Regions from separate parts of the Homo sapiens genome. Here all the other regions are reported to be linked to region 1. Evidence: microRNA targets listed by miRTarBase, many of them from high-throughput screens and not tested one by one. Region 1 holds a microRNA gene; each other region holds the end of a gene's coding sequence.

Region 1 (7,118 bases):
TTTTTTGAGACACGATTTTGCTCTTTCGCCCAAGCTGGAATGCAGTGGCGTGATCTCGGCTCACTGCAACCTTCGCCTCCTGGACTTAAGCAGTTCTCCCACCCTGGCTAATTTTTGTTTTTTGGTAGAGATGGGGTTTCATCATGTTGCCCAGGCTGGTCTTGAACTCCTGGGCTCAAGTCATCTGCCCGCCTTGGCCTGCCAAAGTGCTGGGATTACAGGTATGAGCCACTATACTAGGCCTCTGTATTTTTTTTTCTTGTATGCTATAAATTTTGCAAAATGACAATGGTTTATTTTTATACTAAATGTTAGGGAAAAATCCTAACATCAAAATGGCTAAATTATAAAGGTTTAAATGTCAACTTCTTACCATTTATGTTGCTTTCACAGCTGGAGTTTTTTTGGACCTTAACTTGAAATATAAGACAATCAATGCAATGCTTCCATATGTGGCCAGTACACACTGAGAAAGAAAGAAAAAAGTAAACAAGACTTGTTGTTCCATCTATATTATTTTAAAATATAACTGCTTAAAGTTATCAATACTTACGTTCATTCTACCTGTGAGAGTATAAGAGTTGAAATATTTTTTAATACCAGTGAACTGGTATTGCGCATCACTTTCTGGACCTGCCATGATTTCAATCTTTTAAAAAAAGAAAGAAAGCAACATTAAATTGGTTTGGATGTAATTTAAAAGTAAATAAATTTTGTCTTGTTTTAGTCTAAAAACTCAAGGTCACTGCATATAAATACTGTAAATTTTTATCTATATCTCACCCAACACAGTAGTAGCAAAGATGGTGGAAAAAGCCTTCCTGAAAGAAAAGCTTTTGGAAGTAGGATTTTACCTTGATCGCTATTTCATGAACACCTCAGAATACATCAAATCACACAATAGCCCCTGCTAAGTTCATTCTCTGACCCAATACAGCTTAATATTTTCATTCCTGGCTCCATCACACCACAGTCCATTGAATTAATCCATTTTAAGGCTACTCAAAAATTGGAGCTGGTATTTTTCAAACATTCAACGGGTGACCATCAACTAAACAGCTCAATTACAACCCCTACTTATACAATTTTTCTTGTTATAAGTAATTTAGGACCTCCATGGGAGAAGGGAGAAGGGATAATTTATTAAATGGAGTTAATAATAGCTACTGGTGGTAGTAAGGAAGCTGGAATCCTTGCACCACCACCAAAATAGATAAAAGATTTAAATGTAAATAGTGAAACCAAAAAGTCCTGGAAGAAAACATGGGGAAATATTTAAGTCATCTCAGGGAAGGGAAAATATTAAGAAAAAAAGCCAAAAACCAAAAAAAACATAAAACCTATTAGTCAAAGAAATGTAAAATGAGATCAATATTTAATCATCAAACAAGCAAAAATAAAATTATGGTAAGTAGTAGTATTAAGTATGTGAGAAAACTAAGAATTCTCTCTCTGTTGCTTGGAGTATAAACTGGTAAAACCAGCCTGGCACGGTGGCTCATGCCTGTAATCCCAGCACTTTGGGAGGCCAAGGCGGGTGGATGCGAGGTCAGGAGATCGAGACCATCCTGGCTAACACGGTGAAACCCTGTCTCTACTAAAAATACAAAAAATTAGCCGGGCGTGGTGGTGGGCGCCTGTAGTCCCAGCTACTCGGGAGGCTGAGGCAGGAGAATGGCATGAACCTGGGAGGCGGAGCTTGCAGTGAGCCTAGATTGCGCCACTGCACTCCAGCCTGGGCGACAGAGCGAGACGCCGTCTCAAAAAAAAAAAAAATAAATAAATAAAAAATAAATAAACTGGTACAACCTTCAGAAAGTGCAAGTTGGCAGTATCTTATCGAATTATAAAATGAGTATACCCTTTCATCTAGCTGGTGTTTTTCTCCAGGAATTTACCCTTATTGAAATATTACAAAGTGGAAACACATTGTGTGGTTCAAAGATGGTCAATGAAATACTGTTTATGAAAATCTTAAAAGTCCATCTATAGAAGACTGATTAAAAAATGATGGTTTCCATTAAACGACACACAACAGGCACAGATCTTTGTGTACTGACATGGGAAGATGTCCCAAGTAACGTTCAATTTTGTAAGAAAAAATCTTATTTCTGGATTTTATAAAGCACGTCAATGGTTCTGGGTCTTGTCCCTAGACCAGCAGCATTAGCATCACTGGAAACTTGTTAGTGCAAATTCTTAGGCCCTACCTATTGAATCAGAAACTCTGGGTCCAGGAATCTATTTTAATAAGGCTTCTAGATAATTCTAAAGCATGCTAAAGTTTGAAAAATACTGCAGTAAATGAAATAGAAAAATAGTAAGTGTATTAAAAAAAACTCTGGAAGAATATATAGCAAAGGCAGCTTAATCTATAGTACCTGTGTATTTTACAAAGGCATGAATTTCTTTTATAGACAAGACGTATTCAAAAGGTCACCAGAACAAGAGCTGAAAATTCGTATGCATGACCGCCTATCTACCACGACCGACGCCACGCCGAGTCGATTGGCAACACAGACGAGCCGGTCGAGGTCCGGTCGAGATTGGTAGGCAGTGACAGTGACTCAGCTGGGTCTTGATGAAATGGAAGAGGGAGATATCTGTCAGGGAGTCATTACTATGGAAACTGGAACTCCCCCATTCAAAGGCTTTCAGAGGCATTCTTGTGTAAAGAATTGGCAATGAAAATTTGAGAAAAATGACCTTAATTTTCAAGTTTCAAGAAGGTTCTTGGAGCAATGAAGGAAATCCAAACTTCCTTAGGCCTCTTCAGAGACCTTGGCCAGTCTAGCCCAAGTAGGAAAATCTCCATTAAAAATAACTTTATACACTTGATCTTAGCCAACAGAAGCGATAAAAGCAACTTTATAATGTAGCTATCAACTGTTCCACTTTACTAAACTTACTAAAGACATACTTCCCCCCGCCCCCCGCCCCCCCACCAGCTCCATTCATTTCATGATACATTTTTGGATTCACTTCTTAGGGTTTGAAGTAGGTTTTTAGGAGAAACGCTACAGAAAATAAGGGCTTCACTTTGACCATTAACGAAAACCTCCACTACATTACATCTAACTAAACTTTTTAGGAGGATATGCCCAACAATACTACAGCGCTTTAAATTTCCCTTTAATTTACACACAATATGGGAGGAAGGCTGATGTTTTGTGATATCCCACAGAAGACTAATTCTGATTGCAGGGAAGTGCATGGTTCAAGAACTGAAATCAATCACTCAAGTTAGTCTGGGTCTTAAAGGAGGAGGACTCTTGAGAGGCTCAAATGGAGGGCCAAATGGGGAACGGGATTGTTGCTGGTGAGATAATGGAGTAAGGTCGAAAAATTTGGTTCTGCACTCTTCAGCACGGTGCAGGTTACTTTAGGGCAAAGATAAAGGAACCCTTGTGTTTACAGTGCCCTTTGTAAGACTCCTAGTTGTGATTTAATGTTGTTAAACGGTGGTATGTTTTAATTAAGTTGCTAACTGCCCTTCTTGAGACAAGGTCTCGCTCTGTCGTCCAGGCTGGAGTGCAGTGGCGCGATCTCAGCTCACTGCAATCTCCGCTTCCCGGGGTCAAGCGGTTCTCCTGCCTCAGCCTCCCGAGTAGCTGGAACTACAGGCGCGCGCCACCACGCCCGGCTAATTTTTGTATTGTTGGTAGGGACGGGGTTTCACCATACTACTCAGGCTGGTCTCGAACTCTGGACCTCAGGTGATCTACCCGCCTCGGCCTCCCAAAGTGCTGGGATTACAGGCGTGAGCCACCGCGCCCGGCCACTAACTGCTCTTAAATGTAACTAATCCTTCCGTGCCTCTCTCCACCTGTGAGATGGGCACTTTATTAAAGGTCCAAAGTGACCAGTAGCTCTTGTTACTTTCTCTGTTCCTCGATATTGCTATTTTCCTTTCTAACTTAACACCTACCTGGAATGGTGAGATCACGAGGTAAGGAAGGCAAAGATGAGTGAGAACCACTCAGGTAACAGAAGCAGCCTCTTGCATTCACGGAGTTTACAGCTCTCTGTTCTGGTTACCTCCTAGGAAAGGCCTTCCCACTGATCGTCTATAGACTGAAATCTAACCCTTTTACAGCGGGCCTGGCGAACTGTAGGGGCCGGGCCACATTCACTCGCTTTGAAAAAGGCTGCAGCGCACCTAAAGGAGGCCCGGCTGGCCAGCTTCCTAAAGCACAGCTCGGTGGGAACAAACAGCTATGGACATACAGAAGAAAAGAGGTTAATTCGGCCGGTGATGGGGATCAGAAGCCCTAGTCCTCGTCCAATATTACGTCACTGGGTGACCTCGAGGGACGCTTCGCGGAGGGCCTCATTTTTCTCCACTGGCGAATGCAATCTAAGGGTCTTCGGAAACTGTGGGAGCCCTTGGGCGCACCTATCCGCCTCACCTCGAGGCTTCTCACCCGCTGGCCGCCCCCTTGCGCCCCTCGTTTTTTCTAGCTCCTTTCCCATTCCCCACCGTTTCTCTCCTCCAAAGCTAAGAACTCGAGTTGCTCCTCGGCCAGAAACGGCGGGCGGTCCTGCAACGTGCAGGCGCCAGGTCCAAGCCCGGACTCCCCTCTTCACCCACCTGCCAAAGCCGCAAATTCCGCAGCTGGTGTCCTTCAACGAATGTAACCACCTCTCGGCCCGGCCGGAAGAAGCCACCTCCCCCGCACGCGTTTAGCCGGCCCCCGCGATTCGGCCTAATGCGACGATTGGCTATGGCTCCAAATCCCGCCCTTCCGATTCCTGTCTCTAGGTCACCTCCGCAACACAGCAACGGAAGTAGGGTGTTGAGCCCGCCCACACTTCCGGAAGAATTGCACTGGACTGTGGGTATCCTGGTCTCCGCGTGTGTGAGTACCGCGGCGCGAGGTTAGTGGTAGCTGGGTGCAGACGCCGTGGCGCTGGTGAGTAAAGGCAGAGGCGAAAAAGGAGGAAACCTCATGGCTGTCAGGTCTGTCCCAGGCCTGGTTCCCTGCCAGGCACACGCTAGATGAGTGTGGTTCGGCCACCTTAGCCCCGCTTCGAAGCCGGCTCTGTTGTAGCAGCCCCTGTAACCCCAGGCTTTGTGTTCGGAAAGTAGCCTAAGTATCTTCTGTGCCCCTGGATCGCCTTACTTTTCAGAGCCTCAGTTTCCCCTTGCTTGAAAGGAAATTAAGGGTGAAATTATCAGCAAACTAGACCCCCCAAACTTTCCTGTTTCTATGAATCATATACCCATCCCTGATTCCATATCCTTGGCCCCACCCGGTCATCACTTCTTTAGTCTAAAGCCCTTGTAGAGTCTTATTACCAAGTGTCTGTCAGAACTAACCTCTCCTGTCTTCTGTTTTCACTTATACCCAGTTCTGGTTCTCATGGTTTCTCTGCTGTACTGCATTTGAATCCTTTTTTTTTTTTTTTTTTTCTGTCACTGAGATAACAGGAAACAGTGCATTTGAATCCTTCTACCGAATTTACTTGCCTTCAATACTGTCTCTCTTCATGTCCAATCTATAGCCTGCAGTATATTTTTCTTGCTTACTGTTCTCTCGCTTTCCCTGCTTAAGTCTCTGACTTGCCAAAGCAAACTACCCATATCTAATTCAAGGTCTTCCACAAAAAAGCCCAACTTCTCCTTTAATTTTTTTGAGACAGAGTCTCACTTTGTCTCCCAGGTTGGAGTGCGGCGGCATGATCTCAGCTCACTGCAACCTCCGCCTCCCGGCCTCAAGCAATTCTCACGCTTCAGCCTGCCTAGTAGCTGGGACTAGGCGCAGGCCACCACGCCCGGCTAATTTTTGCGTTTTTGGTAGAGACGGGGTTTCGCCATGTTGACTATGCTGGTCTCGAACTCCTGACCTCAGATGATCCACGCGCCTCGGGCTCCCGAAGTGCTGGCATTACAGGTGTGAGCCATGGTGCCCGGCCTTCTTTAAAATTTAACTTCAATTTTTATGCTTTAATCTCCCAGTGGTCTAGTTGAATAATTCCTCAGAGACAACAGCAAGCCTTTGAGCAGTTGTTTGATAGGGAAATTGCTGGTGTTTATTGAAATAATAGGCTTTTCCCATCCATGTCTTTTCTCACATTCCCTTTCTACCTGTCAAGCTTCTGTTCATCTTTTACCCTTAAGCTAAAAAAGATCTTCTTTATGAAGCTTGCCTCCTTTACTTATCCCTTCCTACATTGCCTTATCCCTTCCTACATCTTTGTGATCATTTATAATCTGATTTGCATTTTAAGTTACTTGCATAATTGTTTTATCTTCCAAAAAGTGTGCATGTTCTTTGAAGGCAGAGGATTATATATTCATCTGTAGAGCTACAGTGTATCTCTGACTTAACTGTAGCTTCTTAGTGAGTATGTGCTACATTGAATCTATAACTTCTTTTTCTGGAAGAAGGTGGGTGGACTTGTGGTTTTGAAGCAGAGACCTTTGGAAAGATGAAGTATGGATTATTCCGGGCCTGACATCTAAACCATCTATGTTGTAGTCCTGAATGTTGTCTAGCATATTGCTGGAACGTTCTGTCTCTTGCCCGTTGATAACACCTTTCTGAAATCTGCTACCAAGACAACATGTCACCATTATCCTTTGCATTGTTTTTAGGAGACCCAAACATGGCAAACCTGGAAGAAAGCTTCCCCCGAGGAGGTACAAGAAAGATCCACAAACCAGAGAAAGCTTTCCAGCAGTCAGTTGAACAAGACAACTTATTTGATGTAAGTAGTATGCTTGTTTGGTGACACTCACTGGAAACTTTTACTGTAGTGTCTTGTGAAAAATGAGCCTTATTTGAGAATGTGTTATTTTTCCAGATTTTTTTTGCATTGAAGTCTACTTCTATAAATTTAACTCATTTAGAGAGGCCATACCACCACAAGGCTGTATCTTTTGAAGCTTGGCATTTAGTATTAAAGTACTGTTATTAGCTGGGCGTAGTGGCTCATGCCTGTAATCCCAGCAGTTTGGGAAGCCGAGGCAGGCGGATCACTTGAGGCTAGGAATTCAAGAGCAGCCTGGCCAACATGGTGAAACCCCGTCTATACTAATACCAAAACTAGCTGGGCATGGTAGTATACCTGTAGTCCTAGCTACTTGGGAGGCTGAGGCATGAGAATTGCTTGAA
Region 2 (7,118 bases), not on the chromosome of region 1:
ACCACCCCGAGGAGACCAGCCCGGGCAAGCAGTTCCACCAGGGCCAGGTGAGCCTGCGGCCCGGCTGCGGCCCCCAGTCCTAGGCGGTGTAGGGCAGACCTGAGGGCGAGGCGTTCTGGGTGCTGGAGCATCAGCAGCCCTGCCCAGTGGGTCAGCCCTGTCCTGGGGCCTGGGGTCGGGTGCAGCAGCCCCCGGGCTCACCCAAGCCCCTCCTCTCTCCCCCACACAGCACTGGGACCAGAAGTCCAGCCGCAGCCTCCCGGCGGCCCTGCGGGTCTCCAGCCAGAGGAAGGACTTCATGGAGGTAGGTGGTGGTGGTGGTGGTGGTGGGCGGGTTGGGGATGGCTGCTTCCTTCCGGGCAGCTCAGACAGGGCCCGGCTCAGCATCTGCTGCTCTGTCCCCCATGGTCTCCCTCAGCCTCTGACCTCCTGTCCCTGCCACTCTCAGTGCCTGGCTCCTGTTCTCTGTCTCTCTGGTCTGTGCGTCTGTCTCTGGGTCTTCTCTGCTCTCCCAGTGTCTGTCTCTGAGTCTCTGGCCATTCTTGCCCTCTGACTCTCTCTGGGTCTCTCCCAACCTCTATCTTTCAGTCTCTGTGTCTCTCTGGGTCTCTCTCGATCTCGGTCTCTGTCTCTCTGCGTCTTTGGATCTCTTGGTCTGTCTATCCTTGTCTCTCATTTGCTCTCCATCTCTCGGTCTCTGTCTCTCTTTTGTTGGTCTGTCTCTTACTCAGCCTCTGTCTCTGACTTGGTCTCTGTCTCAGTCCCTGGGGCTCCCTCTGCTTCTGTCTCTGTCCCTGTGGCTCCCTGGGGCTCCCTCGGCCTCTGTGCCCCCCACCTGCCATCCTGATATCCCCGCGTGCCCGCAGCGCGCGCTATACCAGTCCTCGCATGTGGACGAAAATGACGTGCAGACGGTGTCGCACAAGTGCCTGGTGGTGGGCCTGGAGCAGTATGAGCAGATGCTGAAGACCAAGAAGTACCAGGACAGCGAGGGCCTGTACTACCTCGCGGGCACCTACGAGCCCACCACGGGCATGATCTTCTCCACGGACGGCGTGCCCGTGCTCTGCTGAGCCCGCCGGGCCCTGCGGGCCACCTGTGCCCCGAGGGCGGCCAGGGACCCATCTCCATCACTGCCATGGCGCGGAGACCACGTGCGTTGTGTGCATGCGAGCGCTCCTGCAGGCGTGTGCATGGGGCCAGGTGTGCACGTGGATGCCCGGGTGAGTGTGTGTGCATGCACGTGTGTGCACGCATGTGCACATGCCTCCAGCCCCACCTTCCAACCCCTCAGTGCCCCCAGGACAGGGGCCCCTCTTAGCTATCAGGGTATGGCCGGACCGGCCCTTCCTGCCCAGCACGTTGCAAGCACTTGGCCAGGCCGGCCCTCCAGGCTGCTGCTGCGTGGGGGCCCGGGTGCCCCCAGGTCCATGCAGACTGGGGATTCGGTGGGGAGGGGCGCTTCTAAGGAACCAAACTGACGCTCACTCTGGGCTTCCCAAGCACCCTTAGCATGGAGCCCACCCCAAGGCCTCCCACCGTGCATGGGACAGGGCAGCCCGATGCCAGCTGGCCTACCTGACTGTGCCAGGGGCCCTGCCCCCACCCTCTCAGGATGGCCTAGACTTGGGGAACAGAGCCGGGTGGGGTTGCAGCCCGGAGTGTCTGTCAAAGGCACCAGGTGGAGAGGGCCCGGCACAGGCCCACCCTGGTCCAAACCCTCACACTACAGAAAACCCCAATGGTGCTGAAACTGTCGCCCGGCCACGCCTGGCCCCTCCCCACCCAGGAGGGAGGTGGCACTTCTTAACCTGTACAGTTTTATTGTACCAAGAGACTCGCCCCGCCCCTGTATCATAAGCCTTTAAATGGAGTCAACTTTTTAATTATATATATAAAGATAAATATATATAAATATATATATAAACTTTTTAAAACTGTGAAAAATAGCTATGAAATTATAAAAAAAAACATTCTGACGTGCAGAATATTATTTTTTATTTCCTGTTAGATTATAGTGTCTAGCACCGGCTTCACCGGCCTCCCAGTCCCCAGCACACCCCCCGCCCACCCCACCAAGTGTACTGTACTCACCCCCCAGGATAGAGAAGTGTTTGTTAGGGAGAGAAGAGGGAGAGGCAGGAGCCGGCCCAAGCCCAGGGTCCCTGCTTGGGCCCCAGAAAGCACTTAACCAGGCCCCAAGCCTTCAAGGGAAACCAAGGCCTCAACCAGACAATCTTGAGGGAAGGAAAAGCCAGACTTTGGGTTTGTTTTTTGGGGGAATTATTGGTTTTTTTTTTTATGTTTCTTTTGGAATTTTGTTTGTTGGCAAATTCTGTGTGATCTTTTTTCATAAAAAAAAAGAAAAGATTTAATTGGAAAAATAAAATTGTCTGGAGTGGTTTATTTCAGGGGCTGGAGTAGGGGTGGTGTCTGGGGGCATTCTGCCATATCAGGGCACCAAGAAGCAGGATTCGACTGGAAGAAGTTGGGTGCCACGCGTGCAGGGGCGGTGACCCCATGCAGCCATCTAAATGAGCTCATCGGCTGGGCACAGTGGCTCACGCCTGTAATGCCAGCACTTTGGGAGGCCAAGGCAGGCGGATCACTTGAAGTCAGGAGTTCGAGACCAGCCTGGCCAATATGGTGAAACCCCATCTCTACTAAAAATACAAAAAAAAATTAGCCAGGTGTGGTAGAGCGTGCCTGTAATCCCAGCACTTTAGGAGGCCGAGGCGGGAGGATCACTTCAGGCCAGGAGTTTCAGACCAGCCTGAGCAATGTGGTGAAACCCCGTCTCTACTAAAAATACAAAAATTAGCCGGGTGTGGTGGCCCACACCTGTAATCCCAGCTACTCGGGAGGCTGAGGTGGGAAAATCACAGGGACCCGGCGGGTGGAGGTTGCAGTGAGTTGAGATCGCACCACTGCACTCTGGCCTGGGGGTGACAGAGATTGTCTCAAAAAAAAAAAAAAAAAAAAAAAAAGAAATTGAACAAATTTACATGAGAAAAAATTAAAAGTTAAGTTGGATGGGCACGGTGGCTCACGCCTGTAATCCCAGCACTTTGGGAGGCCAAGGGAGGCGGATCACTTGAGGTCAGGAGTTCAAGACCAGCCTGGCCAATATGGTGAAACCCCATCTCTACTAAAAATACAAAAAAATTAGCCGGGTGTGGTGGAGCGTGCCTGTAATCCCAGCTACTTGGGAGGCTGAGGCAGGAGAATCGCTTGAACCCACGGCAAAGGTTACAGTGAGCTGAGATCGTGCCACTGCCCTCCAGCTGGGGTGACATAACGAGATTCCATCTCAAAAAACCAGTGCCAGGCATGGTGGCTCATGCCTGTAATCCCAGCACTTTGGGAGGCTGAGGCAGGTGGATCACCTGAGGTCGGGAGTTCAAGACCAGCCTGACCAACATGGAGAAACCTCGTCTCTACTAAAAGCACAAAATTAGCCGGGCATGGTGGCACATGCCTGTAATCCCAGCTACTCGGGAGGCTGAGGCAGGAGAATCGCTTGAACCCGGCAGGCAGAGGTTGCAGTGAGCTGAAATCGAGCCATTGCACTCCAGCCTGGGCAACAAAAGCGAAACTCCTCCAAAAAAAAAAAAAAAAAAAGCAAAGCTGCACATTTCCAGCCATGCCTACCACAAAATGATACTAGAAGAAAATGATACTAATGCTAAGAGTGGCCCCAAGCCCTCACCTAGATGGGGGTGGACGGCATCTCTGCACTGGGGCCTAGGGAAGCTATAGGTGGGGGTCTGGCTGCCCAGTGACTGACCTGGTTAGTGTGGGTGGCCTGCAGAGGACATTCGGGGCTTTGCAAAGAGGGTAACCCATGGAGGGCAGCCAGCCGGCCTCGGGCAAGGGAAGGGCCCGGCATGGGCTCTGGGAAACACTCTGGTGTCACCTGGCGCAGTCTTGGCCCAAGTGGCCGCCCACCTGGGCCCCAGGGAGGATGCCTGCCAGAGCATAGGTGGCCCTCGTGCCCTCCTTTACGGGACCCACATCAAAACCTGGACCAGCCCCATTCCTTGGGGAAGCTAAGGACAGAACAGGCCAGGCGCAGTGACTCATACCTGTAATCCTGGCACTTTGGGAGGCCAAGGCAGGGGGAACACTTGAGGCCCAGACTTTGAGACCAGTCTGGGCAACAGCAAGACCCCATCTCTACACAAAATAAAAGAATCTGGCCAGACGTGGTGGCACGCGCCTGTATTCACAGCTATTTGGGAGGCTGAGGTGGGAGGATCACTGGAGCCCAGGAGGTGGAGGCTGCAGTGAGCTATGATGGCACCACTGCACTCCAGCCTCAGTGACAGAGCGAGAGCCTGTCTTGTAAAGAAAGAAAAAACAAAAATGAGGCACAGGACGGGTGCAGTGGCTCACACCTGTAATCCCAACACTTTGGGAGGATGAGACAGATGGATCACTTGAGATCAGGAGTTCGAGACCAGCATGGCCAACATGGTGAAACCCGGTCTCCACAAGACAAATTAGCCAGGTGTGGTGGTGCGTACCTGTAATCCCAGCTACTTGAGAGGCTGAGGCAGGAGAATCGCTTGAACCTGGAAGGCAGAGATTGCAGTGAGCCAAGATCGTGCCACTGCACTCCAGCCTGGGTGACAAGAGCAAGACTCAGTCTCAAAAAAAAAATAAAAAAAGAAAGAAATGAGGCACAGAACAGTGCAGGATTTTGTCCAAATTGCACAAATCAGCAAAAGGGATGAGGCTCGAAGCCAGGAGGCTCTGACTCCTAGGATGCAGTGCAGTCCCTGAGGGGCAGGGGCCAAGCCCCGCCCACTTTGTTTCCCCTTCAAATGGGCTGCATGTGGCCATCCTCCCTGATCCTCACGAAGGGGTGGGGGGGGCGGGCGGTCAAGGTGAGCGACAAACCCTAAGTGCTCCCAGCTCTCACCCCACTACCCAGCGCTGCCCACAAACCAAGCCTACCCAGTGTGAGGACACCCTCCTGCTCCCTGATCCACCCGGCCCACCTCACAGATGGGAAGACTGAGGACCGGCTTATGCGGGGCAGCCCGAGTTCCACCGGTATCCCGAGATGGCAGTCCCAGCCCCCGTCCACGCACAAACTCTGCTTGCAGGCGGCGGTGCAGCGGTCTGCCTTCATCTTTTAATGGCCGGTGCGGTACAGTTAGTGGACAGACGGGGGATGGGACACAGCAGGGGTGAAACAGGGCAGTCACAGCCGGGGCCGGGGATCTGGAAGCGGGGGCGGTCCTCCCCCTGGAAACACCGTCTCTGGAAGGACACCCTTAGGATCCCCTGACCTCAGGGTGCCACCCACACGGGCCTGGTGTTCTGGGAGGCCCGGGCTGGACTGACCCCCAGCCCCTCCCTACGTTCCAGGGACCCTTGGGTCTGTCGAGTCCCTTGCTGGATGAGGGTCAAGACCTAGGTCAAGCTGACTTCAGCCAGGGTGTGGGGGCCCGGCTTCGTAGCCCCCAGACTTACCTCCCCTCTTCTATCCCGGGCCAGGAAGGCAATGGGAGGGCTCCCTAGTCAGGCACAGCCCCCTGACCTGTGGCATCGTGTGGGTGTGTGGGGAGGTCCTGACGTGCCCAGCTGGCATCACTGCTGTGGTTTCCCAGAGGCTGATGCAGACCGCAGGCGGGTCCATTCGGACCCAGGGCTCCGACTCCTTCATGGCTAACGCGTTATGTTTGGGAGAAGCAGTCTCTAAGAATGAGGACAGAAGGGGAAGCCCTGAGGGTGACAAGGTGGGGGGCTGCCCCTCTCCTCTCAGGGCTCCAGAGTTCATGAGGAGGGGTCCCTGGTGGAGGCTGGGCCAGGCGGTGCCCCGATCAGTGCCGGTGGGTGATGAGGGCCGGGGTGCAGTCACTGGGCGCGCACACTCTGGCGGGTGTCTGCTGTCCTGGGTGGGGACACGGTGCGTGTGACCCTGCAGAGTGCTGGCTGGGCTGGAGCCGGGGCCGCTGGACACAGATGGAAGGTAGACGCAGGTATGAGACCAAACGCAGAACACAGTGCTGGCCAGAGCCCCGGGTCGCAGAAACGTGTTCCGGTCCTCGGAGGACTTTGCAGAACTTCAGTCCAGGGTGGGGCATGGCTGGACCCTGAGGGAGTGGGGCTGCTGGCACAGGGGGAGGCTCAGGGCCCCGCAGGCACTGAGGTGGGGACAGGGGAGGGGCCCTCAGGCCTCGGGGCCCCTGGTCAGGCCCTCGGCGTCCCTGGCAGTGGGCGGGGCTGGCTCAGAGGCCTGCGAGGATGGAACCATTGGCGGTGGAGGCGTGCAGGCAGCTGCCGTGAGCGTCGCGGGTGAGGCTGTAGGTGCAGTAGGCCACGGCGGACCCCAGCGTCAGCCCTGACATGTAGGACACGGTCATGGTGTTCCCTGTGGACAACACCAGCCTGAGGGGAGCAGGGCCAGGGCGGCCACCTGGTGGCCACGGCTGCTCGGGTGTGAGGTGCGGTGACACCCGCCTGAACCGTGCCGCCCCTCCAGGACCCGCTGCCCCATCGCTCCTCCTGGGAGCACCCTCTCCGGATCCTGTCCTTCCTCATTCCTTCTTCCCGAGGCCATCTGCTATGCACTCCAGGCCTTGCCTGCCTTCTCTGAGTCCCCCAAGCCCCCATTTTTAAAATTTAAAGACAAGGTCTTGCTCTGTTGCCCAGACCGGAGTGCAGTGGTACAACCATAGCTTCCTGCAGCCTTGACCTCCTGGGCTCACGCGATCCTCCCACTTCAGCCTCCCGAGTACCTGGGACCACAGGCATGCACCACCGTGCCTGGCTAACCTAAAAAAATTTTTTTGTAGAGACTCCGTCTTGCTATACTGCCCAGGCTGGTCCCAAGTGATAGTCCTACCTTGGCCTCCCAAAACACCGTCCTGAGCCAGTGAGCCTGGCCCTAACCCTCCCCATTTTAATCTCCAGTCTCAGCCAGGTATGGTGGCTGACACCTATAATCCCAGCACTTTGGGAGGCTGAGGCAGGCAGATCACCTGAGGTTAGGAGTTCGAGACCAGCCTGGCCAAGATGGTGAAATCTCACCTCTACTAAAAATACAAACATTCGCCAGGTATGGTGGGGGGCATCCATAATCCCAGCTACTCAGGAGGCTGAGGCAT
Region 3 (7,118 bases), not on the chromosome of region 1:
TAGCACGTCATCAAAGAATGCATACCGGAGAGAAACCTTACAAATGTAATGTGTGTGGCAAGGTCTTCATTGACAGTGGAAACCTTTCAATTCATAGGCGAAGTCATACCGGAGAGAAACCTTTCCAGTGTAACGAATGCGGCAAGGTCTTCAGTTACTACTCATGCCTAGCACGTCATCGGAAAATTCATACCGGAGAGAAACCTTATAAATGTAATGATTGTGGCAAAGCCTATACTCAGCGTTCAAGCCTCACTAAACATCTGGTAATTCATACTGGAGAGAACCCTTACCACTGTAATGAATTTGGTGAGGCTTTTATCCAAAGTTCAAAACTTGCAAGATATCACAGAAATCCTACTGGGGAGAAACCACACAAATGTAGTGAATGTGGTAGAACTTTTAGTCATAAAACAAGTCTGGTGTACCATCAGAGAAGACATACTGGAGAGATGCCATACAAATGTATTGAATGTGGGAAAGTCTTTAACTCCACTACAACCCTGGCAAGGCATCGGAGAATTCATACTGGAGAGAAACCTTACAAATGTAATGAATGTGGCAAGGTCTTCCGTTATCGCTCAGGCCTCGCACGTCATTGGAGTATTCATACTGGAGAGAAACCTTACAAATGTAATGAGTGTGGCAAAGCCTTTAGAGTACGTTCAATTCTGCTTAATCATCAGATGATGCATACTGGAGAGAAACCTTATAAATGTAATGAATGTGGTAAAGCTTTTATCGAAAGGTCAAACTTGGTTTACCATCAGAGAAACCATACTGGAGAGAAGCCATACAAATGTATGGAATGTGGCAAGGCGTTTGGGCGGCGGTCTTGCCTCACTAAACACCAACGAATTCATTCTAGTGAAAAACCTTATAAATGTAATGAGTGTGGCAAATCTTACATTAGTCGCTCAGGCCTCACTAAACATCAGATAAAACATGCTGGAGAGAACCTTACAACTAAACTCAATGTGGAAAGGCCGTTAGATGTTGTCCTAACCTCTGGGATCCCCAAATAATTTATACTTACTCATATAGCTTGTATATTTGTCCTTTCCCTTTGAAGTCTCATGTGGAATTGTAGTAATCTCCAGTATTGGAGGTGGAGCCTAGTGGGAGGTGATTGGATGATGGGGGTGGCTTTCTCAAGAAAGTTTTAGTACCATCCCCTTGTTGCTGTCCTTGTGATAGTTCTCATGAGGTCTGGCTCATGCCTGTAATCCCAGCACTTTGGGAGGCTGAGGTGGGCGGATCACTTGAGGTCAGGAGTTCAAGAGCAGCCTGGCCAACATGGTGAAACCCTGTTTCTGCCAAAAATACAAAAATTAGCTGGGCTTCGTGGCGGGTACTGGTAGTACCAGCTACTCGAGAGGCTGAGTCAGGAGAATTGCTTGAACCCTGGAGGCGGAGGTTGCAGTGAGCCGAGATCGCGCCACTGCACTCTAGCCTGGGTGACAGAGTGAGACTCCATCACGCACACGCACGCACGAAAGTGAATGGCACCTCCCTCTTGTTTGTTCTTCTGGCCATGTGACATGCCCTTCACCTCCCACCATCATTTTAACCTTCCTCAGGTTTCCCGAGAGGGTGAACAGACGTCAGCGCCATGTTTCCTATAAAGCCTGCAAAATTGTGAGTCAATTAAACCTCTTTATACATTACCTAGCCTCAGGTATTTCTGTCTAGCCATGCAATTATGGCCTAATATATTTACACATGGAGTGAATATAGCTAAGTTTTTTTTTTTTTTTTTTTTTTTTTTTTTTTTTTTTGGAGACGGAGTCTCGCTCTGTCGCCCAGGCGGGACTGCGGACTGCAGTGGCGCAATCTCGGCTCACTGCAAGCTCTGCTTCCTGGGTTCACGCCATTCTCCTGCCTCAGCCTCCCGAGTAGCTGGGACTACAGGCGCTCGCCACCGCGCCCGGCTAATTTTTTTTGTATTTTTAGTAGAGACGGGGTTTCACCTTGTTAGCCAGGATGGTCTCGATCTCCTGACCTCATGATCCACCCGCCTCGGCCTCCCAAAGTGCTGGGATTACAGGCGTGAGCCACTGCGCCCGGCCAGAATATAGCTAAGTTTTAAGCAAGTGTTCACTAGGCATAAGAATATACATCCTGGAGAGAAATCACAGAAGTGTAGTATATGTGGCAAGAATACTACTTAAAGGTCAAAACTTGTGGATCTATAACTCAAAGTGCAGATATGCTTTACAAATGAAATGAGGGTGGCAGAAGCTTCACCAGAGTTCAGTCACTACTTGAGAGTTTATATTGGAAAGAAATCGTATAAATGTATGTGCTAGAGGCTTCCCCGAGGTGTCTGAACTCACTAGACCTCAGAATATACATCTTTGACAAATGTAATGTGTGTGCTAAGACTTTTTACCCGAACATCCAAATGGAAACATCAGAGTATTCATACTGGAGAACAGTCTTACAAATGTAACGAATGTGGTAAGCCTTTTTAAAAATCAAATGGGCTGGGTATGGTGGCTCACACCTGTAATCCCAGCACTTTGGGAGGCCGAGGTGGGTGGATCATCTGATGTCAGGAGTTTGAGACCGGCCTGGCCAGCATGGTGAAACCCCATCTCTACTAAAAAATACAAAAATTAGCTGGGCAGTGGTGGGCACCTGTAATCCCGCTACTTGGGAGGCTGAGGCAGAAGAATCACTTGAATCCAGGATGTGGAGGTTGCTGTAAGCCGAGATTGCGCCATTGTACTCCAGCCTGGGTGACAAGAGTGAGACTCTGTCTCAAAAAAATAAAAAAATCAAATGTTCATGTTTTTGGAGTTTGAGAGAATTTATACAGGAAAAAAGTCATATCAGTGTGCTTAACATGGAAGGACCTTTAATCAGTAGTGTGTCTTCAGGCTTTACCAAATTATTCATACTGGATAGAAACCTTGCAAATGTAATTAACGTGGTAAAATTTTAAACCATTTCTCAGCCAGATGCGGTGGCTCACGCCTGTAATCCCAGCACTTTGGGAGGCCGAGGCAGGCAGATCACGAGGTCAGGAAATCGAGACCATCCTGGCTAACACGGTGAAACCCCGTCTCTACTAAAAATACAAATAATTAGCCAGGCGTGGTGGCACGTGCCTGCAGTCCCAGCTACTTAGGAGGCTGAGGCATGAGAATTGTTTGAACCCGGGAGGCTGAGCTTGCAGTGAGCCGAGATTGCACCACTGCACTCCAGCCTGGGCGACAGAGCAAGACTCCGTCTCAAAAAAAAAAAAAAAAAAAAAATTTCTCAACAGATTCCATGTTAGGTAAATCATACTATGGATAACTAAGTCTGCTTCTCCATCCAGGATTGACCTGGAATGATACATACGGTAAAATAACCACAAGACAAAATTTGTTAAAACCCCAGGTAATATGTACATCAAAGGATCAAGAGCGTGTGTGGAAATGGCCAATTCAGTATATAAAATAATTGTATTCACTTTGACATTTCTTAAAAAGGCTAGTTGACTATTTGTGACCTTCATCCTAAAGTATGAAGTCTTGCCTTTCCTACACATCTTTCATTGTGGTCTCTGGGAATAAATCAGTAAGGTGAGAGGGCCTGCTTCATTAGGTGTGGTTCCTTCATATCCATGTTTTCTGGAAGATTAAGGTCACTGTACTGTGTGAGTTAAGCAGCATGGAATATGGTGGAGAATGATGTAAATTTACAATGTAAGTCACTGAGCTTGTTGTGTTCAGAGTGTCCTTTGACAAATACAGTGTTGCTTTGGGATATGGGAAACATACGGAGTATGTTTCACTAACCTAAAAATCTGTGCTCCACCTAGATTTGTACATTCTTTTCACTTCTGTCACTTGTTGCTTCACATGTTTTGCAGCTGGTTTTAAGTGCATACAGACAAGATTCTCAAATCATCTTTGTAAATTGACATTATTATCATGTCACCACCCTGTTGCCCAGGCTGGAGTGCAATAGTAATAAGGTCAACTTTTGGAACCCTTCTGCAAATTTCCTAGGATTTTTAGAGTAGCTTCCTAGCTTTTCCTTACATTGCTGTATATCAGTTATAGAGAAGGGGACCTGCAATAGGACTGGCCATTCGGCTCCTGCTGCTTCCCTACGGGGTAGCAAGGCTGGAGGGAGAGTAGAATATGGTGTTCCCCACTGAGTGTTTGGGGGACTTAGTAGGGTCCCCAGTGTTTGCTCCTGGTTTTAGCCTCAGGAGCACTTGGTAAGGGGGCTATAGGGATGGTCGCTCTTCACCCTTAGAGACAAGTGGCTCTTGTAAAAGGGGGTCATCTGGTTTGGCACGGTGGCTCACGCCTGTAATCCCAGCACTTTGGGAGGCCGAGCTGGGCAGATCACCTGAGGTCGGGAGTTCGAGACCAGCCTGACCAACATGGAGAAACCCCGTCTCTACTAAAAATACAAAATTAGATGGGCATGGTGGTGTGTGCCTGTAATCCCAGCCACCTGGGAGGCTGAGGCAGGAGAATTGCTTGAACCTGGGAGGTGGAGGTTGCAGTGAGCGGAGATCAAGCCATTGCACTCCAGCCTGGGCGATGAGAGCAAAACTCTGTCTCAAAAAAGAAAAAGTAAGAGTGGGGGGGATCATCTATAATATCTAATTCTACCTTAGAACTTTCCTTTGGTGGTGGGGGTGGGTTCTGGGAGTTTGACAGATTGCTAGGTTTTGGTATAAGGTCATAAAATCCTGTGCATATGGGATTTCTGACCATTTGCCCTGCCTCTTGCAAAATAGGTCTAATGGCAGGATGGTGTCATAATTAAGGCTACCAAGACTGCCCATTGTTCCAGGCTGGGCAGTTCATAATGGGGGCAGACAATAGTGCAAAAAAAATTTTACATTTTATCTTTAGAGTGTCAGGGTCAAATTGATTTCCATGGTTGAGGATGTAGCCAAGTGTGGAATCAGGTGGAATAGGTGGAGAGTTGCCCATAGTGGTTTGGAAAAGAGAAGAGGACTTTGAAAAGTGGAGGGCTCATTAGGTGACCCAAATTTTACCTGGGGCATCCCCCCTTTAGGGCCCCAACTTAGTCTGTCAGACATCTCTGACCTTAGATGGGTGCTGGCACCACTTTGGAATGGTTCCCTCCATCACTGAGGACCTGACTTAAAGTTTTTCTATCTCACTTAAAACAACCCTTTAACGCTCTCAACTTAGGCAATAATAAATTCCTTTTCATGAATTCCCTCCACCACCATGCACCACACAGACCACATGCCCGGACCCTCTGACTTGTGTAACCTTTTGTGCATAGCTAGGTGGGTTTTCTGTCCTTTGCCAGTTGGGTGGGAGAAGGGAAGAATTTAGCATAAATAAAAGCAGCATAAGTCACCTGAAACCTGTGAGTTTGCCCTGGACGAGCTGCTGCTGCTAACTGCATCACACATAGGGATCAGGGATTATAACTGAAAAGGACAGAAATGAGTCTTTTCCCTTTCTGGGCAGGGCAGCCATCCCTGTTCACTCCTTGGCCTTCAGAGGATACCAGAGAGTGGCCCCAGTCAGTTCCCCTCAATTACCAACGAGCTACTAGGAAACGGCCGCTGAAAGACTGAAAAAGGAGAAAAGGAAAATAACTCAGAAAAAAAAAAAAAGGAATAGGACTCAGAAAAACAAAAACGAGGAAAAGGACTCAGGTTCCTCACCTTAACCAAGCGGTGGCAGTTAGGCACTTCCACACGGAAACCTTCCAGTTTCACCAGAGAATGGCCCTGGCCAGAAACTTGCAAGTGTCTTTGTGCTTAGGTGCTGTCCACTGAGGGTCCTCAGTTGGAAAGGAAAAGATGGAGAGAGGAAGATTTCCCTGTATGTAAAAGGGGAAAGGAGAAAAAGAAATCCCAAACTTTGGGCCTACCTTCTCTCCTGGCTAGCTCACCAGAATATGTTACCAGTAGAGGGTCTTGACTGCAAGTTGTTTAGGTTCTTGGCATTTTGAACAAAGACTTGGAAGAAACACCCAGCAAAGCAATGAAAGAATGCAGCATCAAAAGAATGAAAACAGGAATTTATTGAAAATGAAAGTACACTCCACAGTGTGGGAACAGGCCCAAGCAGTGGCCCAGATACAGAATCTTCTTGGGTCCAAATGACTACTAGAGGTTTCCCGTTGGCTGCTTGGTGCTGACCTAATGTAAATGAAATGGTGGCCTGCAGTCAGTCAACCAATCAGAGGCTGAAGTAAAGTTACAAAAGTCACACTCCTACGCAAATATCTGATTGGTTGCAAAAAGCAACCAATCAGAGGTACTTTTAATTTCCCATCTGCCAGGCAGAAAAGGTAGAGGTTTGCAAAGGGAGTAGTCTCTGGTCCTTTTGTTACTTAGGTGTGGAAAGTTAGGGTTTTCCCATCAATTTAGCTTAAGGACGTTAGCGTGAAACAGCCTTAGGTTTCCTGCCTCCAGACCATGTTCTCCTGCCTCAGGATCACAGGCTCACGCCACCATGCCTGGCTAATTTTTGTATTTTTTGTAGAGATGAGGTTTCGTCATGTTGCCCAGACTGGGAGAAATATATTTTAAGGTATAATTAGCATGTTGTGTTTTAAAAATCCTGTTGATATACTTGCACATTAGTAACAGAGCTTTTGCTTCCACATTGTACAATTTCAGTTCAGTATCTTGTATCATTCTAATTATTTCACTGAACTTAAAATGTAAGGGACCTTCTACATATTGATAGAACACATGCTTTGCATCTGTCATTTCTCTGTGTGTGTGTGTGTGTGTGTATATATATATATATATATATTTTTTTTTTTTTTTTTTTTTTTAGACAGAGTCTCGCTCTGTCGCCCAGGCTGGAGTGCAGCGGCGCGATCTCAGCTCACTTCAAGCTCCACCTCTCGGGTTCTTGCCATTCTCCTGCCTCAGCCTCCCAAGTCGCTGGGACTATAGGCGCCCACCACCACGCCTGGCTAATTTTTTTTGTATTTTTAGTAGAGACAGGGTTTCACCATGTTAGCCAGGATGGTCTCGATCTCTTCGTGCTCTGCCCACCTCGGCCTCCCAAAGTGCTGGGATTACAGGTGTGAGCCACCGCTCCCAGCCTCTCTGTACAAATTTTTTGCCACACAAATCTGAAAATACCACCTTGATTTATGGATCC
Region 4 (7,118 bases), not on the chromosome of region 1:
GGGTTTCACCATGTTGGCCAGGCCAGTCTCGAACTCCTGACTTCAAGTGATCCACTTGCCTCTGCCTCCCAAAGTGCAGGGATTACAGGCATGAGCTACCGCGCCCAGCCTAATATCATTAATTAATATTTTACTTAGGTGAGGTATCTAACCACCAACAATAACAGATGAGTTTCCAGTTTTTCAAACAAGGTAATAAGAGACCTTAATGCTGCCCATGTAATCATTAGCAGATGTTGGGAGACCAGCAGACTGGAGCTAAGCAGGGAGTCTGCGATCATGGAAGAGAGCAAATTAATCCACACTAGGGATTCTAACCTATAATGTTTACCTAGCACCAGCCCTGTTAATTAATTGTCAATTTAAATTACCCAGAAGAACACACACATCTGTAGGCCTGCTTCATAAATGGTAGATCAGTAACTGACCACACTGCAGCCGTGTATCGGCAGTTGAGTTTTTTGGTCTTCAGGCTCTGCTATCTCTCCAGTACTATGAGTTATCAGCAGTAGCAGAGGGTAGGAGAGCTCCACAGAGATCAATATTCGGACTCTGGAGACCATGACAAAATACATTTCATATTCCAAACTAATATATAAACTACCTTTTTTTTTTTCTTTTCAGATTTCCAGAAGCTGTTCTGTCAATAACAAAGTCTCAAAGAAAACCACAAAACCACCAACACTAAGATCATTCTTGAGTCCAATTTGAAAAACTAGGGTCAAGTTCTGCAGAGGCATTGAAAGGACAAGAAACCACCCTGATACCCATCGTGTGAGGGAAAATGCTCTATTCACCATTCCTCAGCTTCTGCTTCTGGTTTCAGAGTTCTCTCTATATTGGAGGGTGTTTTAAAGCTAGAGTGGTCTTTATCCACTTTTATTAACACATCTGAATGTGAAGGTCAAGAGAGGAAAGTGATATGTCCTAAGTCAGAGTAGAGTCAACAAGAAAATAAGACAAACAGCGACTGAGCCCCTGGTGTATACTGGGCATTGGCCAGCTACTGGGGATATGGAGATGAAGAAAACATAACCCTTCTTCAAGGAGCCCAACCTACCAAGGTAGACAGACATATAGACAAATAGATACTTGCATAGAAAAAAAGAGGAAAAGGGGATCAGTGTGACCTGTGTAACTAAGTACCCTATAAACCCTCCTGCAACAGATCATATTGCCCTTTATAGTGGGGATGGTAATCCCATCTGAATTCCACAGGTACTTTGCAGTCATACCACACCCATGTGTCTGTCGGTCCTGACTGTACCATTTATAAACAGCTTCACTTTCAGCAGTTCTCAGCCCTCTTAAGCTAGGGTCATTGTCAGTAGGGATACTGCTTCATAAGCACCAGCAGAACACCAAAGGAGACCATATGGGTGAAAGCAACCAGCACTGCCCTGGCGCTTCATAGGTTCTTAGAGTTTTTATCTTTTACTTTCAGTCTAACACAGCACTGCCTGCTTTTTGTTTTTGTTGCTTGGTTTGTTTTTTTCTTACCGTGTTCACCAAACTTGTGTCCAAATAGCTTTGGGCTGATGCAAAAATATCTATGTGGAAGAGAAGAGTTGTTCTCATGGAGGGCCTTCAGATGAGTGCTATAGACTCTCTAGGCAACTCCAAGAGGCTTCTCAAGCAGGGTGGGCAGTGAGAGCTGCTATGGAATCAATGGACAAACTGACAGGGACTGCTTTGAAAGACAGTACTCAGTTGAGTATATATATTCTCTCTTAAGGGCTAAAAGTTTATAATCATCCCTTAAACACTCTGTGATGGGATCTTCAGGATCATCTTTTGAAGTAAACTATATTTTACAATGTGATATAAATCAAGTGAGTTTTTTTTTTAATTAGGAATTCCCGTAAGTATAAAGCCATTTTAAGATGTACATTTTAGAGACTAGCTATTGTTAAGTGGTCTGTTACATTTGTGTAAACCATAAAGATCTTTCCAGAGGAAGCAAGTCTCTCATACCAGAATATGAAAACACTAGCCCCAGGCTTGAGTAACCTAGATCACATGAAGCTGACTTCCTCTGAGGAGTCTAGGACCTCAGATATAGGTGGGAGCACACAATCACCCTTCTGGAAACAGCTAAGACTTGTGGCTCAGGCGTTTGACCTTGCTGACAAAGGAAGAGGTCAGGGTTGACGAGAGCTCCAGGAAGAATGAAAGTGCCTCTGGAAGGCAGGAAGAAAGTTACTGTAATACTTTATCCTTAGGGTGGAACAAGAGTCTGGGAAAGCTCTGCCCTATAAAGTCCCCTTCCCCATTCCTCCCAGGTCCCAGGTGTGGTGGTATAAGGAGAGTTGGCCCAATCTGGGAGCTGAGGGATCTGAGACATCCATCTACTGCATCAGTGCACTCAGAAGTGAGGATTTTGGCACAGTTATTCATGAGACATCAGCCCATCATATAAAACATGCCTCCAGTTTGGTTAAACTAGGAAGCACTATATAATATTTTAAAATCAGTTACATGTCACTGATAAAAGACTTAGTATTACCATGATGTTATTTTTCTTGAGGCAACATGATGAAACCCATTGTCTACAAAAAATCCAAAAATTAGCCAGGTGAGGTGTGCACCTGTAGTCCCATCTTCTCAGGAGGCTGAGGTGGGAAGACTACTTGAGCCAAGGTGGTGGAGGTTGGAGTGAGCCCAGATTACACCACTTGCACTCCAGCCTGGGCAACAGAGTGAGGCCTTGTCTCAAAAAAAAAAAAAAAAAAAAAAAACAACGATTTTTATGAAAGTTGGAGAACCAGGATTAAGACTGGGTGGGAACTAAGAATGACAGGTACTTTTAACAATACAGCTGGGATGCTGTTGATGACATGAATGAACCCCACTCTTACTGTAGTCATTTGCTCAAGATTCAAAGTCATGAAAAAGAGTAGAATGGACCAAACTTAGGTACTAAGAGTCCCCAGCCTGGCAGTGAAAACAGTATAGTTCCTTTGACTTTAATATGGGGAAACAGGTTCCTGGATTGACGATCTCACCAAAACTATACACAATTTTTTTTTATTTTTTCTCAGACCTTTCAGGGATGAATATATACAATTTCTGAGAAAGAAACCTGAGTACCTTTAGGAAGGGAAAAGGAATGCTGAATATCCCCAAATAACATGTCTTACATGTTTGGTAAGACTTACTGTACCCTGTCCTAGAAGATAGAAGATGCCCTGCCCTTAGAAGACAAAGAGACTGTAGAGCTATGCCTTCTAAATCTTAAGCCACTCTTCAGATAATGGATCCCTTCATGGTCAGCCCAAACATCTCAAGAACTTTTAATTTGTACCGTTTGTCTTTTTTTCCATTTATTTAATACCACAAATTCACTTTATTATTATGAAGCCAATATCTACATCTTCTCACAAAGATTCTCTTAAGAAATGCAGAACTGGCCGGGTGCAGTGGCTCATTCCTGTAATCCCAGCACTTTGGGAGGCCGAGGCGGGTGGATCACCTGAGGTCGGGAGTTCAAGACCAGCCTGACAAACATGGAGAAACCCTGTCTCTACTAAAAATACAAAATCAGCTAGGCGTGGTGGCACATGCCTGTAATCCCAGCTACTAGGGAGGCTGAGGCAGAAGAATCCCTTGAACCTGGGAGGCGGAGGTTGCGGTGAGCCGAGATCGCACCATTGCACTCCAGCCTGGGCAACAAGAGCGAAACTCCGTCTCAGGAAAAAAAAAAAAAAGCAGAACTCCTTACTGGCCTCAAAACATACTGTGACATTTCCGTAACCTACAGGTCTAGAAATCCTGTGCCAAATATGGTTAACTTGTTTGCTGAGAAGGATGTGGAAGAACTGGAACCCTCATACACAGCTGATGGGAAAACAGTCTGGAACTTTCTTAAAACATTCTGGTAAATGGGGGCCCGGCAAGCTAGAAAGTGTGGCTATAATCCCTTGCTTTTTTCCTTTTTTAAACTTTTTCTCTCTCAGTCCTGACCTAAAGATGACCCTAGTCAGGCTGGACACGGTGGCTCACGCCTGTCATCCCAGCACTTTGGGAGGCCAAGACGGGTGGATCACCTGAAGTCAGGAGTTCAAGACCAGCCTGACCAACATGGAGAAACCCTGTCTCTACTAAAAACACAAAATTAGCTGGGCGTGGTGGTGCATGCCTATAATTCCAGCTACTCGGGAGGCTGAGGCAGGAGAATCGCTTGAACCTGGGAGGTGGAGGTTGCAGTGAGCCGAGATCGCGCCATTGCACTCCAGCCTGGACAGCAAGAGCAAAACTCCGTCTCAAAAAACAAAAACAAAAACAAACAAAAAAATTCCCCTGAGAGAAAACCTGTCTTTCCAGCCAGAGGAGCAGGAAAAAATGACCCTATGGTCTGAAGAATGTGGAAATAATCCATCTTTTTTTCTCTCTCTGCTTTCTGCCTGAGGGGCGTTCCTTTTGGCAAAATGAGCAGGCAGTGTAGGCAGGTAATCATCAGAGAGAAAGCCCATCTTTCTAAGCCAGAGGATGAGGAAAAGGGGCCCCCTGGGTGCCAGGGAGTCTGGGGGGAAATCCTGAAGAGCAAAGACCTGAAAAGAGGATTCTCTAATTCTGTACATGAGCTGAATTCCGTGCTCAGCCCAGAGCTGCACATACAAGAGACAGAGCCCAGGCAACACAGCCACACTCTGAACTGACACTCGGACCACCACCACCAAACAGAAGGCAACGCAGGACCTGCAGACTAAGGCTAACGAGGCTGATTGCCTGACAAAACAGAAAAAAAAGAAACATTCTTCAGGGAATTTTAGCAGAACACAGAGTCTCCCAACATAAAACAGACAGTCCTCACTGCACAGCAGTTCAGAACTGTAAAAATGACCTTCCAACCTGAAACTGCCATGTGCTGTTCATAATCATTAATGGGTAAAATTGTGATTTTTTTCCTGTCTTTTGAAAATTGTCAAAACATTGATAATCTTGTACTGTTAGAAATGTATAAGGAAACAATAAAGTAAATATTTTTGTACACTGTAATTTAAAACATTAGCAACACAGGGAATTAAAGTGCTTGATGTCTTCCTAAAAAAACCATCAACAGACATTTAAACAGTGCTTGCCTTCTTCAAAAGTCATGTACCTTATGATATAGAGGGAGCACCTTTTCTGTGTTCAAAAACTTGTCATGCCCCTTCTAAGTTTGGATCAGCTTCCAATATTTTATCCTTTTTGCTTTCAATGTCATGAAATATCTCCAAGTCCCTTTAACGTGAAGGTTTTTGCTGACGTTCCTTCCTCTGGAACATCTTCATCCTTTTCATCACAACCGCTTTCTTCATTTATTTGAGGAATTCACCTTCTCGGCAGCAGTGCCAGCATCCCCATAGTCTGTTTCTTCAGTGACCCCATTTATGTTTGATTTGCATTCACGTTCAGTGTTTTCAGTTTGAGTTTCTTTGCTGCATTTCTATCTTTATTTGTCAGTTTTCTCTTTTGAATATCCATTTGTGTAAAAATGCCATGTGGGTTTATCACTGGAAGACAAGGAGGCCACACAATTCACACTTTGCTGTCTGTGCGTGAAATGAACACAGATGCACAGTGACCAATCACCCGTAGGTTTTGGAAAGAAGAGGCATGATTGGTCACTGATCATGATGTACCTGTGTTATTATGTAGTGATTTGTGGACTGGGGAGCTAGCAGAAAGTTTGAACTTCATGCAATTACAGTTAATATATTCTGGTAACTCAAATTTGAACCATGTTGTCAGGGGACTGGTGTTCACCATAATAACTAAAATTTCAGAATCATGAAATGTCACTTCTGATATAGTCTATTCATTAAAAGTCAGTCCTAATTCTGGCTCACACTCAAGGGGAGGGGAATTAGGCCCCAGCTTCTGAAGAGAGGATCTCCAATTAATTTGTGGACATATTTTAGGATTCTTCAGGAAGTCCATATTCCTGAAGAATATTGGCACTGGGTATAGAATTTTGGATGGATGATTCTTTCCTATGAGTGCTTTAAAGGTATTGTTCCACTGCATCCTGGCCTACATGATTTTTTATTATATGTCTGAGATAACCCGTATTTCAAATTGTTCTTCCCTATACCGAATGTGTTGGGTTTTTTTCTGGCTACTTTCAGGATTCTTTCAATCTTTGGTTTTCAGCAGTTCGATTATGATATGCTGAGCATCTTCTTTGGATTTTGCTGAGTTTCTTGAATGTGTATTTATATTGTTTGTCAAATTTAAGAAGTTTTCAGCAGTTATTTCTAAAAACTTTTTTTGTGTCTGCACCAATTTCTCTTTTCCCTCTGAGACTCTAGTGTCAAAAAATACGTGATTTTCTGGTGTTGTCTCCCAGGATCCTGAAGTTCTATTCATTCTGTTTAATCCATTTTCTCAGTGTCCTCTGGTTAATTTCTACTGATCTGTCTTCAATTCACTGACTCTTTCTTTTGTTATTTCCATTCTGCTAGTAAGTCCATCCATTACATTTTTTAACTTCAGAAATATAATTTTTTCAGTTCTAGAATTCTTAATTTTCATAGCTTCTGGGTCTCCATCAATAACTTCTTTCTTTCTTTTTTTTTAGGCAGAGTCTCACTCTGTCACCCAGACTGCGATCTTTGCACACTGCAACCTCCGCCTCCCAGGTTCAAGCAATTCTCCTGCCTCAACCTCCCGAGTAGCTGAGATTACAGATGTGCATCACCACGCCCGGCTAATTTTTGTGTATTTTTAGTAGAGACAGGGTTTCACCATGTTGGCCAGACTGGTCTCGAACGCTCAACCTCAGGTGGTCCACCCGCCTTGGCCTCCCAAGGTGATGGGATTACAGACATGAGCCACTGCGCCTGGCCCTTTGTTTTCATCTTAAGAGCACAGTTATAAAAGTTGTTTTAAGTTGTTGTCTGATGATCCAAGATCTGAGTCATTTTTGGAATGACATGTGTTGGTTGTCTTTTTCCTTGTGAATAGGTCATACTTACCTGGTTGCTTGCGCATCTAGTAATGTTGGATCATATTCTGGATGTTTTGAATACCAAGTCCCAAGAGTCTGCAACTTGTTAAAATCCCTGGAGAAGACTGATTGTAAGCAGACAACCAATTCAGTTAAGTTCAGATGACAAACTGTCTCCCCTTCTGTG

What was found. The annotated mature microRNA hsa-miR-1307-3p reads ACUCGGCGUGGCGUCGGUCGUG and lies in region 1 at 2,484-2,505, opposite strand. An mRNA with a match to its seed (bases 2 to 7 or 8) in the 3' UTR can be bound and repressed. Matches are read on the target gene's strand: a 7mer-m8 pairs with bases 2 to 8, a 7mer-A1 pairs with bases 2 to 7 and ends in A, and an 8mer does both.
Region 2: miRTarBase lists TNRC18 as a target of hsa-miR-1307-3p. The part of its 3' UTR that is shown has no 7-base or 8-base seed match.
Region 3: miRTarBase lists ZNF841 as a target of hsa-miR-1307-3p. Seed matches in the 3' UTR shown: 7mer-A1 at 1,427-1,433.
Region 4: miRTarBase lists FAM120AOS as a target of hsa-miR-1307-3p. Seed matches in the 3' UTR shown: 7mer-A1 at 3,636-3,642 and 7mer-A1 at 4,210-4,216.

The regions. Positions count from the first base shown.
Region 1 is chr10:103,391,818-103,398,935 of GRCh38, forward strand. MIR1307 (microRNA 1307) reads right to left here and starts at 2,584; the gene lies at 2,436-2,584. It overlaps ATP5MK (ATP synthase membrane subunit k), which reads right to left and starts at 4,658. Exons shown (of 5, transcript NM_001206427.2): 1 at 4,592-4,658; 2 at 3,929-4,215; 3 at 554-649; 4 at 374-466. The coding sequence starts at 640. The coding sequence ends at 377. It overlaps PDCD11 (programmed cell death 11), which reads left to right and starts at 4,809. Exons shown (of 36, transcript NM_014976.2): 1 at 4,809-4,913; 2 at 6,599-6,711. The coding sequence starts at 6,610. RefSeq lists enhancers at 3,921-4,753, 4,146-4,235, 4,386-4,635, 5,293-5,794, 5,795-6,295.
Region 2 is chr7:5,302,061-5,309,178 of GRCh38, reverse strand. It overlaps TNRC18 (trinucleotide repeat containing 18), which reads left to right. Exons shown (of 30, transcript NM_001080495.3): 28 at 1-47; 29 at 230-304; 30 at 867-2,368. The coding sequence ends at 1,073. It overlaps SLC29A4 (solute carrier family 29 member 4), which reads right to left. Exons shown (of 11, transcript NM_153247.4): 11 at 2,267-6,382. The coding sequence ends at 6,240. Among named protein-coding and RNA genes, the nearest start is that of SLC29A4, 23 kb to the right of the region's middle.
Region 3 is chr19:52,059,014-52,066,131 of GRCh38, reverse strand. It overlaps ZNF841 (zinc finger protein 841), which reads left to right. Exons shown (of 7, transcript NM_001136499.2): 7 at 1-1,667. The coding sequence ends at 1,025. It also overlaps the pseudogene LOC100419835. Among named protein-coding and RNA genes, the nearest start is that of ZNF432, 14 kb to the right of the region's middle. RefSeq lists an enhancer at 1-1,118.
Region 4 is chr9:93,441,204-93,448,321 of GRCh38, reverse strand. It overlaps FAM120AOS (family with sequence similarity 120 member A opposite strand), which reads left to right. Exons shown (of 3, transcript NM_198841.4): 3 at 625-4,990. The coding sequence ends at 711. Among named protein-coding and RNA genes, the nearest start is that of FAM120A, 6.9 kb to the left of the region's middle.